2 separate regions of the Homo sapiens genome follow, and region 1 is linked to region 2. Evidence: fine-mapped expression QTL. Tissue or cell type: gastroesophageal junction. Region 2 holds a variant in brackets; the other region holds the start of a gene. All regions are shown on one strand. Distances are from middle to middle.

Region 1 (8,154 bases), 24 kb after region 2:
GCCATCTTTGAAAAAGCTTGTTCCTCCATTTTGAATGTATCTTTAAGTAGAAGCTAATTTCAGAAGGTTCCCATTTTGCCATAGGGTTTAAAACCACATCTGATGACCATTACATTGTTCAACAACGATTTCATCCCCAAAAATGTTTCCCAAAGTAGTTCTGTCTCTTAGAATTTATGTGATCAAACGTGATGAGAATGACTCCAAACTACTAAGAACCTAAGAGAAAATGTTCTTCAAAAAATTTCACCAAAGCCGGGGCGTGGTGGCTGATGCCTGTAATCCCAGCACTTTGGGAGGCCGAGGCGGGCGGATCACTTGAGGCCAGGAGTTCGAGAACAGCCCGGCCAACATGGAAAAACCCCACCTCTACTAAAAATACGAAAACTAGCCGGCCATGGTGGTGCATGCCTGTAATCCCAGCTATTCCGGAGGCTGAAGCACCAGAATCGCTTGAACCCGGGAGGTGGGGGTGCAGTGAGCCGAGATCGTGCCACTGCACCTCCAGCCTGGGTGACCCAGTGAGACTGTCTCAAAAAAACAAAAATGCCCCAGTTGTCATCTGAATTGATATTACTTAAAATGATAACCTGACAAGGGGAGATTTCCTATCAGCTGAAAAATAACAGGATTCATAGACCTCTAATTTTAAATGTATTTGGGGCCTCCTAGTTCTGTTTTTCTCTCATTTGTCTTATTTCTGCTGCCCCCTTGGAATTGTAGCATTAGGGCACAAAATCTTTTCCTACTCTATACAGTAGGGAAGAGAAAAAGGCAGAGATCTGCTCCAGATAAGCCACTTGTGTGTATATCTACATAATATTCCACTCTTAATTTCTTGTACTACTCAGTAATCTGAAAGGTAAAATGAATGTTCCTGGCAAGTTAGACACACTTGTACAGAAATGTTCGGCTCTTTGTGTTTGTACTTTCTGTAAGTCTTATACCTATGTACTAGGGTTTTTACAGGGAAAGTGGTGGTATAATTTGTAAGATGTATGGTTGAAAGAAAATATTCCTATATGTGCAAACATATCCAACAAAAATCCCCCAGCACCTAAGAGAACAAATTATATAAGTTAAATCTAGTTATGTTTTACCCATCCAAGTAGCTGCCCACAATCTTGGATAATCATACCTGTGTATAGGTAGGTACCAAGAAGAGGACCTGGATTGATAATCTTTTCTCATCTTGCTCAAAAGAGGGCAAGGTGAGCCATACTTAGTTATTAACTAAGAGGATTAACTCAGAAAGACTTTATGAGGTTCCTTTAACACTCCACTAGTAATTATATCTCAATTAAAGCTATATTATGCTAATGAATACAAGTTATTAAAGTGAAGCACCTTGAAGTTAAAATTCAAGCTCCTTAGAATGGTGGTTACTAGAGGTTTAGAAGAGAGGAAGGGGGGATGAAAAGAAGTTGGCTAAGGGGTATAAAATACAGTTAGATAGAAGGAATAAGTTATAGAATTCAACAGTACAGTAGGAAAATTACAGTTAACAATAATTTATTGTATATTTCAAAATAGAAGAGAAGATTTATAAGTTCCCAACACAAAGAAAAGATGTATGTTTGAGGTGATGGGTAGCCCAATTACCCTGATTTGGTCATTACACATTATATACAGGTATCAAAATATCACATGTACCCCCAAAATATGTACAACTATTCTATATCAATAAAAAATTAAAAACTTCAAACTCTTTTTCCAGCACCATTAAAGTTTTGCAAAAATCATGAGACTGCCCCAAATTTTTCACTTTTTTTCACTGAGAAAGCAAGACTTGCCTTCCAGCTAATAACATATCACTATGTACTAGAAAATATGTTTTCCATATAAAAAGAAGGGAAGTAAGACTACTATTCCCTGCTCATATGAGGGGACAAAATTACAGGGGCTAATTCCTCCTGATTATGTTTAGCAAAGTTTTTCTGTGCTTCTTTTCCATTTTCTGTGAGATACTATATCATAATTTAAAGCTCCAGCTCAAAAGCCACTGTAATCAAGCAAGAAAACTTTTATGAAGGTTTCTTGGAATAATACATTTCTTTTCATTATGGAGCACAAATTGGATAATTTAGTGTAGGCAATGAATGAAATAGAGGCAATCTGACCATACTTGCTACCTCTGTATCTTGAGAATCCTGAAAGATAGGGTTTCTCTTATTCCTTTTGGGCTGGGTGGAATGATGGTTGCCCTCTTTACTGCCATTTCTTCTTCTTTTCCTGAAAATAAATTGTAAAGAGAGAGTTGTTACATGAAACAACTGATCTTTTGGATGCTTAAATTGTAAAGCCGTGACAACATACATATATGAGAACTTGTCTGAAAAAATGTCACTATCTGCTATCCCAAGATATAAAAGTCATATAAGTACTCCATTACCAGGCATGAAGATAAAAAAATGTAATACAAGAACTCTAAGTAAAGCCAAGCTGTGCATTTCATTTCTAGAAATAATTTTCATAACCTTAAATGATCCTTGAAAATAAAGAATATGAGGAATTTAATAGCTAAGTTTTCAAAATCTACCTAATTAGTTTCATTGTTTTGACTCCATGAAGTTACAATTCCAGGGTAAGTGATTTTTAACTCCTTCAATAAGATCGTAAGACATGTGTGTCTGCCAGTGTCTACTCTTAAGTTCTTATGCCAGTGGTGTAGCGACACTGAAGAGATATTTCTTGTATGCTGAATGTGGTTAGGCACTTACTGTTGCTATACCAGCTAATATTATGACATAGTTACTCCACTAGATTGTCACCATGAGATTGTGGCTGATTACTTCCTTGAAACATTCTTTTCTCAAAATTGTTTTCAATGATTGGTAAGATTACATCTTCAGTTTCAAGTTCCTTGTCAATAAGTAATCAGATTGCAGCGTTTGACATAGTTTTCACAGCACTCTATTATTAACCAGACATTTGCTTAGAGACTTACTTTTGAGTTTTTGGTACTCCTAAGAATGGCTGAGTTTACTCATTTTTATAATTTCATTACTCTTTAATCAATTCTCATCTCTAGGAGACTGAGTACTAGGAGACTCTAGGAGACTGAGTACTGAGTACAAAATGCCAAATAAAAAATCACGTAGAAAACTGCTCCTATATTACACTCCATTATGAAATGATTGATTATATATAAAGAAAAAATGACCGGGTGTAAATATTATTTTATTTCACAATGTTTATTGAGCATCCACTAAGTGCTAGGCACTCCTCCAGGTGCCAGGATAAAAGAGTGAAACAAACACATGCCACAGCTCTGCCTTCATTAGGGAGCATGGTGATGTTTGTCTTTGATCATGGTATTTTGAGTATTTGAGTATTTTGCGCTCAAGTTTTACTGAAACTTTCAACAGCTTACAATACGTTTGCATTGTTTTTAAAACAGAGTAATACTATGAAAATGATTTTTCAAAGTGTGAAGCTGAGTTTAAAAAGCGGAATGTTCATGAAACAATGTTAATCTCATTTTTTAAAATGCAACTTTACGAATGAAAAACATCTAAGGAAATTTATCACAGAATATGATTAATGGTCACGGCTGGGTGATCGGACTGTGGATAAGATTGGTTTCCTTTATTACGCTTTAACAGTCTAACCAAGTTTTCTACCATGAGATTCAGAGACGTTTGTAATGAAAGAATACATTGATAAAGGTCCATAGAACCCCAGTAACACGTGGAGAAAGATGACAAAACCAATCAGAGAAACAGAAATACCAGTTGCTAGGGTACCTAGCAGCCTCACCGAGGAAATGCCAATTTGAAAAACAGAATGCTATTGTCCACTGACTGAGTTTTCGCGAGGGACCACATCCCCACCTCACCCCCGCCTCCAGGGCTTGTAAGGCACTGACAACCAAAGAACCAGCATGTTCTTTCGGAGAAGGCTTCGCGGGATTTTTTTTCAAGCACGAAGGGCGGGGCACGAGGCAAGCAGGGCCGCGCCACCGGCCAACACTGTCACCTGCAGGTCATGAGAGCCGAGCGCCACCAACCCCGGAAGAAAATACATATCCGCTGCGTTTCCGCCCTGAGCCCCGAGATCTTGGCTGAGAAAGCAAAGCGTGATGACCGTGGGGACCAGAGCTCGGACTGGTACCGGCCGGAAAGGCCCCGACGAACTTACCGTACAGGGCAGCCTCCCATAGTCCTGCCCTCGGAACCATAGCAACCGCGCAGGAAGTTCCTGCGCCGCCGGAAAAACGCAGCCCGGAGGGCGGGGCTGGCCAAGGATTGACGGGCTCTGGGCCTGCGCATCGGAGCCCGGGGAGGTCGGCTCCTGTTTCCTCTGGGTCCGCCGCAGGCTCCCTTCCCTGCAGTTGGGAGCTGACGCCTGAGGGACGATCCGCTGAGGGTCAGGCTCTGCTGCGCGACTGCCCGAGCCGCCCCATGTTCGAGACCTGTGCCAATCCCATGGACATTCTCCTCCCACCCAGCCAGCCTCTGAACACGCTTCTCACGTGGCACACGCCCTGTCCTCGCAGCCCTCACACCGCTGATCCTCCTCGGCGACCTCAGCGCCCCCGGGGCTGACCAGGCCGTGGCCGGCGCCTCTCCGTCCTCGGGGGGGTCTCCTTCCCCCCACTTAAGTCTCTTCTGCCCGCGGTCATGCCCTGGGCCTCAGGAAAGACCGCGCCCCTCCACGATGTCCATTTCTTGCATCCCCCATTCTCATAACGGGCAGCACCCGATCGTGTCCTAACAGCTACCTCTTCCAGTGCCCCAGCATCCACAGCCTTTAGCCTCAAGGAGGCCTCCTCTCCACTAACCACAACCGCGTTCCTCACCATTCACCTTCCTTAGCCAGCTTACCCAAAGCTATTAACTCTCTCCTCCCTACTCTCCTGGCAGTCCCCCCGCCGCCAAGTAGACAAACAATGTACACCCTCCACAAGTGTACCTTCTCTGTCTAGTCTACTTACAAGATCCCTCCACAAGCACCAGCACCCAATTTTCTCATGATATTCACTGATATTCCCTTGAGAAAATAGAAGCAATCAGAGAAGAATTCACACCACTTCCCAACAGCAGTAGACCTGCACTTATAATCTTGGCTGCTTCCCTGGAGGAAGAGACAGGATCCTACTTGAGACCAGGCCCTTCACCTGGATCCTATGCCTTCCACCTTCTTAAGGGATCATCCTTTGCAGTTATGCTTTCTCCTGAATTATCATGTTCCTCTATCTGTATTTATTATCTAAAAAGTTGGCAAAGGGAGTGCTAGAGTTTAGGCTGATCCTGGTTCTTGCTGTTAAGTAGGTGATCTCACAGGGGGCTGCATTCCCTGAGGATGGAAGGGAAGATGTGGAAAGTGGCTGATTCAAGAACTAAAGATCATGCCATAAAGGAAGCCTAACCCAGCTAGGGGCTAGGTGACCCTGCAGCCGAGGCTGTGGAGTAGACAGCCCTGGACAGGGGACTTTTAGACTGCCATGTTTGTCGCTGCATTGTGCAATTTTAACAAGAATCCTGCTAAGTCAGTTTAGTTAGAATTTCCCATCATCAATATCTCAGTTAGGTTCCTCATCCCCCAGGTGATGTCTAGTCACCCTGGCCCACCTTCACCAACAATCCTGTTAGTTCAATTTAGCCACAATACCCCCTTACCCGTGGTGTTTCCTCTTAGTAATTTTCCGTCCATTGCTCCCCACCCTGCTCCTTGGCTATAAATTTCCACTTTTCGTTGTTGTATTTGGAGTGGAACCCAGTTTCTCTCCCTTCACTGCAAAACCCCATAGCAGTGGTCCCTACACCTATCTTGATGGTCCTGAATGAAGTCTGCCTTACCGTTCTTTAACAAATGCCATGAATAATTTTTTTTCCTTAACACCCTTCACTTGGATCCCATGCCCTTCCACATTCTCAAGGAACAAGCTTTTGTAATGATCATTCCTTTTACTTGAATCACCATGTTCTCCATGTCTATCGGATCATGCTATCGTCTACAAAGTGGGCAAATAGATGGTTAGAAATGAGGGATTTTGCTTTCAAGAGCTGATCTTGGTTATTGCTGTGTTGTAGGTGAGACCCCAAGGGGCTGCATTCTCTGAGGAAGGTGGAGGGGTTGGAGGGTATGGAAAGTGGCTGATTCAAGAGCCAGGGGTGCTACCATGGGGCAAGCTTAAGCCAGATAAGGACTAGGTTACCTTGCAGCTGAGGCTGTGGAGTGGACAACCCTGGCCAGGGGCTGAAGGGAGGATGAAGCCCAGATTCAGAGGGGTCTGCAGAAGCTAGCACACATGGGCTGAGGCTGAGTCAGCCAGGGAGTACCAGATTCTGACCAAGATGAGAGAGACAAAAATGCAAGTTACACCAGCCACAGACATACGTGAGCAAATCAGCATCACCAGCAGGATTTGGGAGATAAGTTAGCCTTCCTTCAGAAACCACTGAGGACACTGCAATCAACATGAGACTCCTAAGCAATGCAGACCATGTATTAGGCCATCTTGCATTGCTGTAAAGAAATACCTGGAGTCTGGGTAATTTATAAAGAAAAGAGGTTTGAATTAGCTCATGGTTCTGCAGGCTGTACAGAAAGCATGGCGCCGGATTTGTCAGAGGCGTTCGAACCAGAGCAATTCTATCTTGAAAAAATAGGAAAAATCTAGGAAAAAGGAGGCTGGGATTTGCTTGGCTGCATTCTCAGAAAATTAGGTATTTCTAGCCTCTAGATGTTTTTACTGAACAGACCCAGACTTAGGAGTGTCGTGATATCCCAATATCTTGAGAACAGAAGCATTCCTAATTTTGCTTTAAAGATCATAATATCAATTCTTGCAAGATATAGTAATTAAGAAAATTAATCCTTTATCACAAACCCTTGTAGCAGAGCACATCTCCCCATAATCTTTTTTATCCTGTATATAAACGAGTATTGTACCTAGGGTGGATGCATTCCTTTTCTTACTTTTGGGAATATCCTACTCTGTCTGTAGAGTAGCTGTACTTTCACCACTTTACTTTCTTAATAAATTTGCTTTTGCTTTGCACTGTGGACTCACCTTGAATTCTTTCTTGGGCGAGATCCAGGAACCCTCTCTTGGGATCTGGATCGGGACCCCTTTCTGGTAACAGCTTCTGGGGAGGCCTCAGGAAGCTTTTGCTCATGGTAAAAGGTGAAGCAGGAGCAAGCACTTCACGTGGCAAAAGCAGGAGCAAGAGAGAGAGAGAGTTGGAGGAGGGGAGGGAGGCGCCACACACTTTTAAATGACCAGATCTCATGATTATTATGTAATGTCCGATTTTGTCCCTTGTAATAATCTCCACTATAAAGAGTGCTTTGTGAGGTATTAATTTGACACCTTGAGTTTTTATGTGGTTCATGTTTGCAGGGTATATCTTCTTCCATCCTTTACTTGTAACTTGTTTATTTTTAAAGTGAGGTTCTCTTTTTCCCAAGATACAGATTAGCGATAAATATATTGTGAAAATCAAGATCTTCTTGCAGCCGTGAAACGGTAACAGTAAAAACACCAAAAAATCAGATGTAGAAGTTAATATGGAACTGAAGTGTTATGCAGAAATCCACAGAATAATTTGTTAGGTTCCTCAAAAGAACCTCAATCAAATTTACTGACAGCCTTTATAGAAAGATAACTTGAAACTAAAGTGATACATTTATATGAAAAATATTACTTTATCACCCCATTTTCTGCAGTAGGCTTTTAGATGAAATTTCATTTCACAAAAGTGTTCTGTTGCTAAAAATATTTTGAAAATGGCTGTATAGGATAATGTTTCAGAGGTCTCTCAGCTTAGAAATTTTGGGATTCAAATATCCTTCTCTACATTGAATGGAAAAAGTGAAAAGAGAACAATATCATGGGGGAGGGAAATGTTGGTCTACTGTATTTTTCTTTTCTTTTTCTTCCTAAACTAACCGGTCTGTGTTGGTTCTCAGCTGTGCTGTTAATCCAGGTAAAAGATGCCCTTCAGGAGAATACATGGATTCATTGGGCCCCAGGGAAGTTTTGAATTGCTCAGAAACAACAGCCAGAATAACTTTTGAAAGGCTGTAAATGGAGATGATTGAGATCTTCTGATATGGTTTGGTGGTGTCCCCACCCTGTGGAAGGGACTCGGTGGGAGGTGATTGAATCATGGGGGCAGGTCTTTCCCATGCTGTTCTCACGATAGA
Region 2 (8,154 bases):
ATATTGGAGCTTTTAATAGGGTGTGCACTTTGGTTTAGTTCATGGCCTATAGACACTCTCCAAACATTTCTTGGATAGGTATGTGGATGGAATCATAGTTTCATGCATCCATAGACAGAGAGATGGACAGACAAATGAATGGATGGATTGAGGCAAGATTATGCAGTGTCAGTGGTGTCACATTTATGGTATAAAAGTCTTTGTGCAATTTGCAAAATAAAGGGAAGCCTGATATCTTTCAGTTCATGTTTTGATGTAAGTGTTTCTGGAAGAAAGAGGGTAATGGGAAATACAGCTGAAGGGGTTCACTGGGGCCAGGAAAGCCTTGACCACCAAGTAAGATATAAAGTAGTGGGGCCCTTTTAGAACTGACCAAAAATATGACCCAAAAGGCATCTGCATCAGGTTAATCTGGCAGCAAAGAAAGGAAAGACAAGAGGAGACAGAGAAAGAAAACCACCCCTAGAATATTATTGGATTAATCTAAACGTGAGATGATTGTGATCTAAATTTGAGACCTGGAAGTAGTAACTGAAAAATTATAGGGAAGAGACATCCAAGGAACAATTGGAAGGTCAAGGAGGGCCTAGAATATCTAGGGACATGGTAGTGGGATGCATTGAGATATGAAGGAATGTAAGCACATTTTGGGTAGTCTTGATGAATTTTGATTTAGTTATACTGATAATGAGTTGACAGAGAAACTTACTGGAGCAAATGTTCAGCATGGAGAAGGGAATGCATATCTGGAATTTAAGGCAGTGGTGAGGACAACAATAGACATCTAGTAGTCATGTGCTTAGAAGTAATGTTTGAGGAAAGAGAATCCTGAGGCAGAGAGGATAGACTAAAATGAGTAGAGGCTTAAGTACTGAATTCAAGAAATATTTGATAGGGTGTGTGTCTTAGTTTGGCTGCCTGCTATAACAAAGTACCATAGGCTGGTGGCTTATAAACAATAGAAACATATTTCTCACAGTTCTGGAGGCTGTAAGTCTGAGATCAGGGTTCTATGAGGCCCCCCTTAGACTTGCAGACTGCTGGCTTCTTGCTGTACTCCTAGGTGGTGGATAGCTCTCTGACTTCTTATAAGGGCTTTAATTTTGTTCATGAGGGCTCTACTCTCATGACCTAAGCACTTCCTAAAGGCCCCACCTCCTAATACCATCACATTGGGATCAGAGTTTCAATACATGAATTTTGAGGGGACACAAACATTCAGCCCATTGCAGTGGGGGTGTGGCAAAGAGGAACAGCTTGGAAAGAATTCCATTGTGCACTCAAAGAGACAAGAGAAAAAGTAGTAAGGCAGAAGATCAGAGAAGGGAAGGGAAGGAGAAAGCTTCCAGGAGTGGTGGTGAATAGGGCTCCATGCTGTTGAGAACTGAAAGAAAAAAAACTGAGAAAAGGCATCTACCATATTTGTTAACTAGCATGTGAGATGACAAAATTAAGCTTGCTTCTCCATGGGAGTGAAGGAAGGTGCTATCAAGCTGTAGAAAATAAATAGTGGAATTTTATAGCACTGCTGGTCAGCTCTCATTCAATCATACTGACCTTCCACACTGAGAATTAGGAAACTTAATGCAAAGTCATCACACAAAAATAGCTCCAAATTGCTCGCCAAAGATGCAGAGAAATGGCATTGCTTTTCTTTCTTCTGACATCATTCTTTGCCCTTCCATACAGCCATGAAACAAGTTCCATAGCATAGCTGGGCCACCAGATCAAGTTACAATCAGGAATTCTTGAAAACAATCTGAAACTGGATGGTTTCTTCTCATTATCTCCATACCTGTTGTGCTGCCAACTTTCACAGCCTGCTCTTTCTATGTTCTAGTTCATTATGATCCTTTCCTTTCCACTCGCATTCCATATGCTCATCCAGCAGGTGGCAGGAGCCATCCACTTTCAGGAGTGGGTGTAGCTTAAAGATTTCTGATGACAGTCACTCTTTAGCACAATAGTTCTGTGGTATGTGTCTTTTCTGACATACCAAGGTCTTTCTCCCATGACCTTCATCATACCCTACCCTACCATTGTCATCCAGCACATCCTTTTATTGGTCCTCTATAGGGGAGCAATTTTGAATGAAAGCAAGTTACTTCTCAAATGCTGAGCCATGTCTCTGACCAAGTTGCAGTTCAGGCCCTATCTTCTATCATGCTGATAGAAGAGAGTCCTCCTTGCTAAGTCATATCAGACTTACCGTTGGCCAGAAAAGCAGTCATTCAATTAATTCCCAACCAGCCCCATAATGAGTCTGGCCTGCCTTCAGACTTAGCTCCTTAAACATGGGACAGGAAAGGGTAAACTGAAGGGGAACGAAGGATCCAGAGCACTTTCTGTTTTTAGCTTACCTAGGGAAATTGTTAGATGAAGATAATTTCCTCCTATAGGCTTAGGTATCAAGACTCAGCTTTGTTCACTAGATTAATTGGTGGCCACCACTTTGAATCAACCTCTTTTCAACACTTTGCCAAAAGGCCTGCTTCCAGATCCATCCCTGTTGTGAGTTGCTCTGATCCATTCTGGAGGCCATCCTACGGGTGGGAGCCCTAACTCACCTTTCTTTTCTGGTTCATTCAATCGGTATTTATTGTGTGTTCTGGAAATATAGCAATGAACCAGACACATATGGATCCTTTTTCACAGAGGTTTTAGTCTGGAGGGGAGGCAGATGTTTCACTCATAAATAAGTATCTATATCAATATTGGTGATTGCCATAAAACAAAATTATAATCTGCCTTAGAAACATATAACAGAGAGACATCACCAAGCCTAGATGGTCCGAGAAGGCTTTCCTGTGGAAGTGACATTTGAACTTCAACTTGAAGGATGAATAGGAGTTATACAGGTGAATAAGACAAGGGAGGAAATTCCAGGCAAAAGGAAGGGCGTGTTTAAAGGCCTGAGTCAAGAAAGATGTTGGTATATTTGAGGATGTGAAAGAGTCAATGAGGTTGAGAATTGTGCATTGAGAGAAATAGTGACATGAGATGAGCCTGGAGAAATAGAGATTGAACTTGGCTATATCAAGCAAAGCTTTGTGGGCTAGAGTAAGGGTCTTGCACACTGTCCTAAAAGGAATGGGTAGCCTTCCCTAGTCATCCAGGCCCTTAGAGATCCCTCACTATATATGCCCAGACATCTTATTCTTGTATTTTGCAGCATCTATCACAATTAAACAAATATTTTCACAGTTGTCCTTAATTACACAGTCCATTGTAGGGTTTGGAGAAGGAGAGTAACATAATAAAAACTACAATTTTAACTCAAATTTTAATTTAAAAGTCAAAGTTTAATTTTACATTCATGTGATAGTGGATCACAGTGGGGCTGCAGTAGATGTTGGGAGGTCACAACAAAGCTCTCACCTTAATCCACGTGAGAAATGATCATGGATTGGATTATTGTTAGCAGTGAAGAAGATGAAGCTAACTGAACCACTTTTAGGTTTAGTTCTGAGGAGAGGATTTAGTGATGGCTGTGGAGGGTGTGGGAAAGAGGTGCCAGAGTTAATGAGGAAACTGTATAGTCAGAAGGATAAGATGATAAGATTACATGTGAAAATGTCAAGTTTGAGAGGACTGAGACCCTCAAATAGAGAAGAGGAACGGGCTAGGGGATTTTATGGGTCTGGAAGAGAGAGGTGAGAGCTCAGGCTTGGCAATACACATTTGGATTCTCTCAGTATAGGAATATTACTTGGGGCCGTGAAACTGAATGACATCCCTGATGAGAAGAAAAGAGGACCAAGGACTGTGCCCTGGAGAACTCCAAAATTCAAAGATCAGATGGAGGATTTGGCTATATTGACTGAGAAGAAAAAGGAATTGGCAAGAGGAAAACAAATAGAATGGGATGACAAAGCCATGTAATCATTTAGTGAGAGAGATGCAGTGAGCATAGTCTAATTCCAGGCTTCTTTTGCCCTTAAACTAGGATGCCAC[A/C]TTCCGATATCTGTTTCCTCAATACCCTTACTTATAACAATATGCCCCTCTCTCAAAAGCTGAATATTGACAAAGTTGTCATTGTGTTAGATAATAGAAGTGCCAGGGATCTTAAAAGAGTCTCTGTGTTACACAACTCCAGAAGGCACCGTTCACATAGAATGCAATGTGAATGGGGCTTCCTAGGGCCTTAAGGCCCAGTGCAGCTCCATTCTTGAGGTGTTGTTTGTCCTCAGCAAATTTGTTTACTCCAAGAGCTGTGTTCTGGAAAAATCAGTCTTAGAAATTAACCTGAATCTATACTCTTGAGCTGAAAGAGAATAGGGCTCACTTAGTTGTTTGGGAATAAGCCCACATCCATTACTATTGGCCTCTTTTTTCTCTACCAAAACCATTCTATCCTTCTCAGTGTGGAATGGGGGAATTCTGGCTGCTAGGAAAAAGATTGACTTGAGATATCCTTGAAAGAATTATCTGAGAATATTCCTCTCATACTCTTTCAGGTTCTGACGAAAGGACGCCAAGACTCATTCTCCAGTAGCTCTATTCAAAGAGCTCCAGGTTTTATCTTTGCAGGTTCTTGACATCAGGGCCAGCAATTCTACTTCAAATAAACAGATCCAAATAAGCAGGTGAAGCATATCTTTCTTCCTCCAGTTTGAGAATCCTCAAGACCTGCCTTCTAATGCTACCTGGGCCAATACGACAAGGCAGGGTCTATTTGCCAATAGTGGCCTCTCCACTAATGCTCAGCTGTTAGTCCTTGTGAGCAGAGCTTCCCTTCAACCCTAGATTTTAAGTTGAAGGTTAAACTGGATAACTTTCTGGCTTACTTTCCCTCTGATGACTCCTCCCAACCCAAGAAGGTCCTCACTATGCAGGTTAAAAACTCTGCCATTGACAGATTTATAGAGACTGGGACTGTGCAGGAAATGCTGCTCCAGAATCACTCCCTAGCATTCATCAAGCACATCTTGTACTGCAGGTGGGCAGAGCTGCAAAGCATTGAAGAGATTATGCAAGGATGACAAGATGTCCACAACCATATTTAAGTACACATAGTTCTATCCATGGTCAGATGCTGTCAATCACTGGGGAAACAGTGTTCCCATCTGAAACGGTTTGGCTGTGTCCCCACCCAAATCTCATCTTGAATTGTAATCCTCATAATCCCCATGTTAAGGGAGGGACCCAGTGGGAGGTGATTTGATCATGGGAGTGGTCCCCCCATGATGTTCTCATAATAGTGAGTGGGTTCTCACGAGATCTGATGGTTTTATAAGTGTTTGACATTTCCTCCTTCACACACTCACACTCTCCTGTTGCCTTATGAAGAAGATGCCTGCTTCCTCTTCTGTCACGACTGTAAGTTCCATGAGGCCTACTCAGCCATGTGGAACTGTGAGTCAATTAAACCTCTTTCCTTTATAAATTACCCAGTCTCAGGTACTTCTTTATAGCAGTGTGAGAATGGACTAAAAGAGGAATTGGTACTGCGGAGAGTGGGGCCCTGTTATCAAGATACCTGAAAATGTGGAAGCAACTTTGGAACTGCATAACAGGCAGAGGCTGGAACAGTTTGGAGGGCTCAGAGAGAAGACAGAAAGATGTGGGAAAGTTTGGAACTTCCTAGAGACTTGTTGAATGCTTTTGACCAAAATTCTCATAATGATTTGGACAATGAAGTCCAGGCTGAAGTAGTCTCAGATGGAGATGAGGAACTCAATGGGAACTGGAGCAAAGGTCAATCTTGCTATGCTTTAGCAAAGAGGCTGGTGGCATGTTGCTCCTGCCCTAGAGATCTGTGGAACTTTGAACTTGAGAGAGTTGATATGAAATTGGAACTTATGTTTAAAAGGGAAGCAGAGCCTAAATGTTTGGAAAATTTGCAGCCTGACGATGTGATAGAAAATTAAAAACCATTTTCTGGGGAGAAATTCAAGCCAGCTGCAGAAGTTTGCATAAGTAATGAGGAACCAAATGTTAATTGCCAAGACAACGGGGAAAATGTCTCCAGGGCATTTCAGACATCTTGGCAGCAGCACCTCCCATCACAGGCCTGAAGGCCTAGCAGGGAAAAATGGCTTCATGGGCCAGTCCCAGGGTCCCCCTGCTCTGTGCAGCCTCAGAACTTGGTGCCCTGTGTCCTAGCTACTCCAGCTCCAGTTGTGGCTACAAGGGGCCAAGGTACATCTCAGGCTGTTGCTTCAGAGGGTGCAAGCCCCAAGCCTTGGTGGCTTCCACATGGTGTTGGGCCTGCAGGTGCATGGAAGTCCAGAATTGTGGTTTGGGAACCTCCACCTAGATTTCAGAGGATGTATGGAAATGCCTGGATGTCCAGGGAGAAGTTTGCTGCAGGGGTGAAGCCCTCATGGAGGACCTCTGCTGGGGCAGTGCGAAGGCTAAATGAGGGGCTGGAGCCCCCACACAGAGTCCCCACTGGGGCACTGACTAGTGGAGCTATGAGAAGAGAGTCACCATCTTCCAGACCCCACAATGGTAGATGTACTGACAGCTTGCATAGTACACCTGGAAAAGCCACAGACACTCAATGCCAGCTGTGAAAGCAGCCAGGGCAGGGGGCTGTATCCTGCAAAGCCACAGGGGCAGAGCTGCCCAAGGCCATGGGAGCCCATCCTTTGCATCGGTGTGCCCTGGATGTGAGACATGGAGTCAAGGGAGATTATTTTGGAACTTTAAGATTTAATGACTGCCTCACTGGATTTTAGACTTGCATGGGGCCTGTAGCCCCTTTGTTTTGGCCAATTTCTCCCACTCAGAATGGAAGTATTTATTCAATGCCTGTGCTCCCATTGTATCTTGGAAATAACTAACTTGCTTTTAATTTTACAGGCTCCTAGGTGGAAGGGACTTGCCTTGTCTCAGATGAAACTTTGGACTTTTGGGTTAATGCTGAAATGAGTTAGGACTTTGGGGGACTGCTGGGAACAAAAGATTGTGTTTTGAAATGTGAGGACAGGAGTGGTGACTCACGCCTGTAATCCCAGCCAAGGCAGGCAGATCACTTGAGGTTAGGAGTTTGAGACCAGTCTGGCCAACATGGTAAAACCCTGTCTCTACTAAAAATACAAAAATGAGCCAGGTGTGGTGTTGGGTGCCTGTAGTCTCAGCTACTGAGGAGACTGAGGCAGGAGACTTGCTTTAACCCGGGAGGTGGAGGTTGCAGTGAGCCGAGATTGTGCCACTGCACTCCAGGCCGGGTGACAGAGTGAGACTGTCTCATAACAAGAAAAAAAAAAAAAGAAAAAGAAAAAGAAAAAAAAAAAAAGAAATGTGAGGACATGAGATTTGGGAGGGGCCAGGGCGGAAAGATATGGTTTGGTTTTATCCCCACCCAAATCTCACCTTTAACTGTAATCCCAATAATCCCCATGTGTTGAGAGAGGGACCCGGTGGGAGGTGATTGGATCATGGGGGCAGTTTCCCTCATGCTGTTCTCATGATAGTGAATGAATTATGAGATCTGATGGTTTTATGAGTGTTTGACATTTCCTCCTTCACACACTCATATTCCCTCCTGCTGTTCTCATGATAGTGAATGAATTATGAGATCTGATGGTTTTATGAGTGTTTGACATTTCCTCCTTCACACAATCACATTCCCTCCTGCTGCTTTGTGGAGAAGGTGTCTGCTTCCCCTTCTGCCATTCCCTTTCTGCCATTCCCCTTCTTCCATGATTGTAAGTTTCCTGAGGCCTCCCCAGCCATGCAGAACTGTGAGTCAATTAAACCTCTTTCCTTTATAAATTACCCAGTTTTGGGTATTTCTTTTCTTTTCTTTTTTTTTTGAGATGGAGTCTTGCTCTGTCACCCAGGCTGGAGTGCAGTGGTGCAATCTCGGCTCACTGCAAGCTCCGCCTCCTGGGTTCACACCATTCTCCTGCCCCAGGCGCCCGCCACCATGCCTGGCTAATTTTTTTGTATTTTTTAGTAGAGACGGGGTTTCACTGTGTTAGCCAGGATGGTCTCAATCTCCTGACCTCGTGATCCGCCCGCCTCGGCCTCCCAAAGTGCTGGGATTACAGGCGTGAGCCACCGTGCCCGGCCAGTCTTGGGTATTTCTTTACATTAGTGCAAGAACAAACTAATACACCATCTAAAGAAATGCATTTGGGGCAACTCAGGGAGCTCAGAGAAACCACAGAAGATATGAAAAAAAGAACCAGGGCCAATGAAACA

Alleles and levels. Positions count from the first base shown, and alleles are read on the strand shown. Sizes are in standard deviations (SD) of each study's normalised expression.
For the expression in gastroesophageal junction of the gene that starts at base 4,189 in region 1, C is the low allele of the variant in region 2 and A is the other (small effect, 0.19 SD a copy in GTEx).

What was found. PIP is the estimated chance that this variant, and not a neighbour inherited with it, causes the effect.
Region 1: it holds the start of VCF2, and the variant in region 2 is fine-mapped to the expression of VCF2 in gastroesophageal junction (GTEx, PIP 0.98).

Annotation. Positions count from the first base shown.
Region 1 is chrX:55,156,997-55,165,150 of GRCh38, forward strand. It overlaps VCF2 (VCP nuclear cofactor family member 2), which reads right to left and starts at 4,189. Exons shown (of 3, transcript NM_001166701.4): 1 at 4,141-4,189; 2 at 2,133-2,232. The coding sequence starts at 4,160. RefSeq lists enhancers at 3,852-4,151, 3,977-4,477, 4,478-4,978.
Region 2 is chrX:55,133,476-55,141,629 of GRCh38, forward strand. It overlaps the pseudogene LOC100421179. Among named protein-coding and RNA genes, the nearest start is that of VCF2, 24 kb to the right of the region's middle. The variant A/C (reference allele first, on the strand shown) is at 3,955.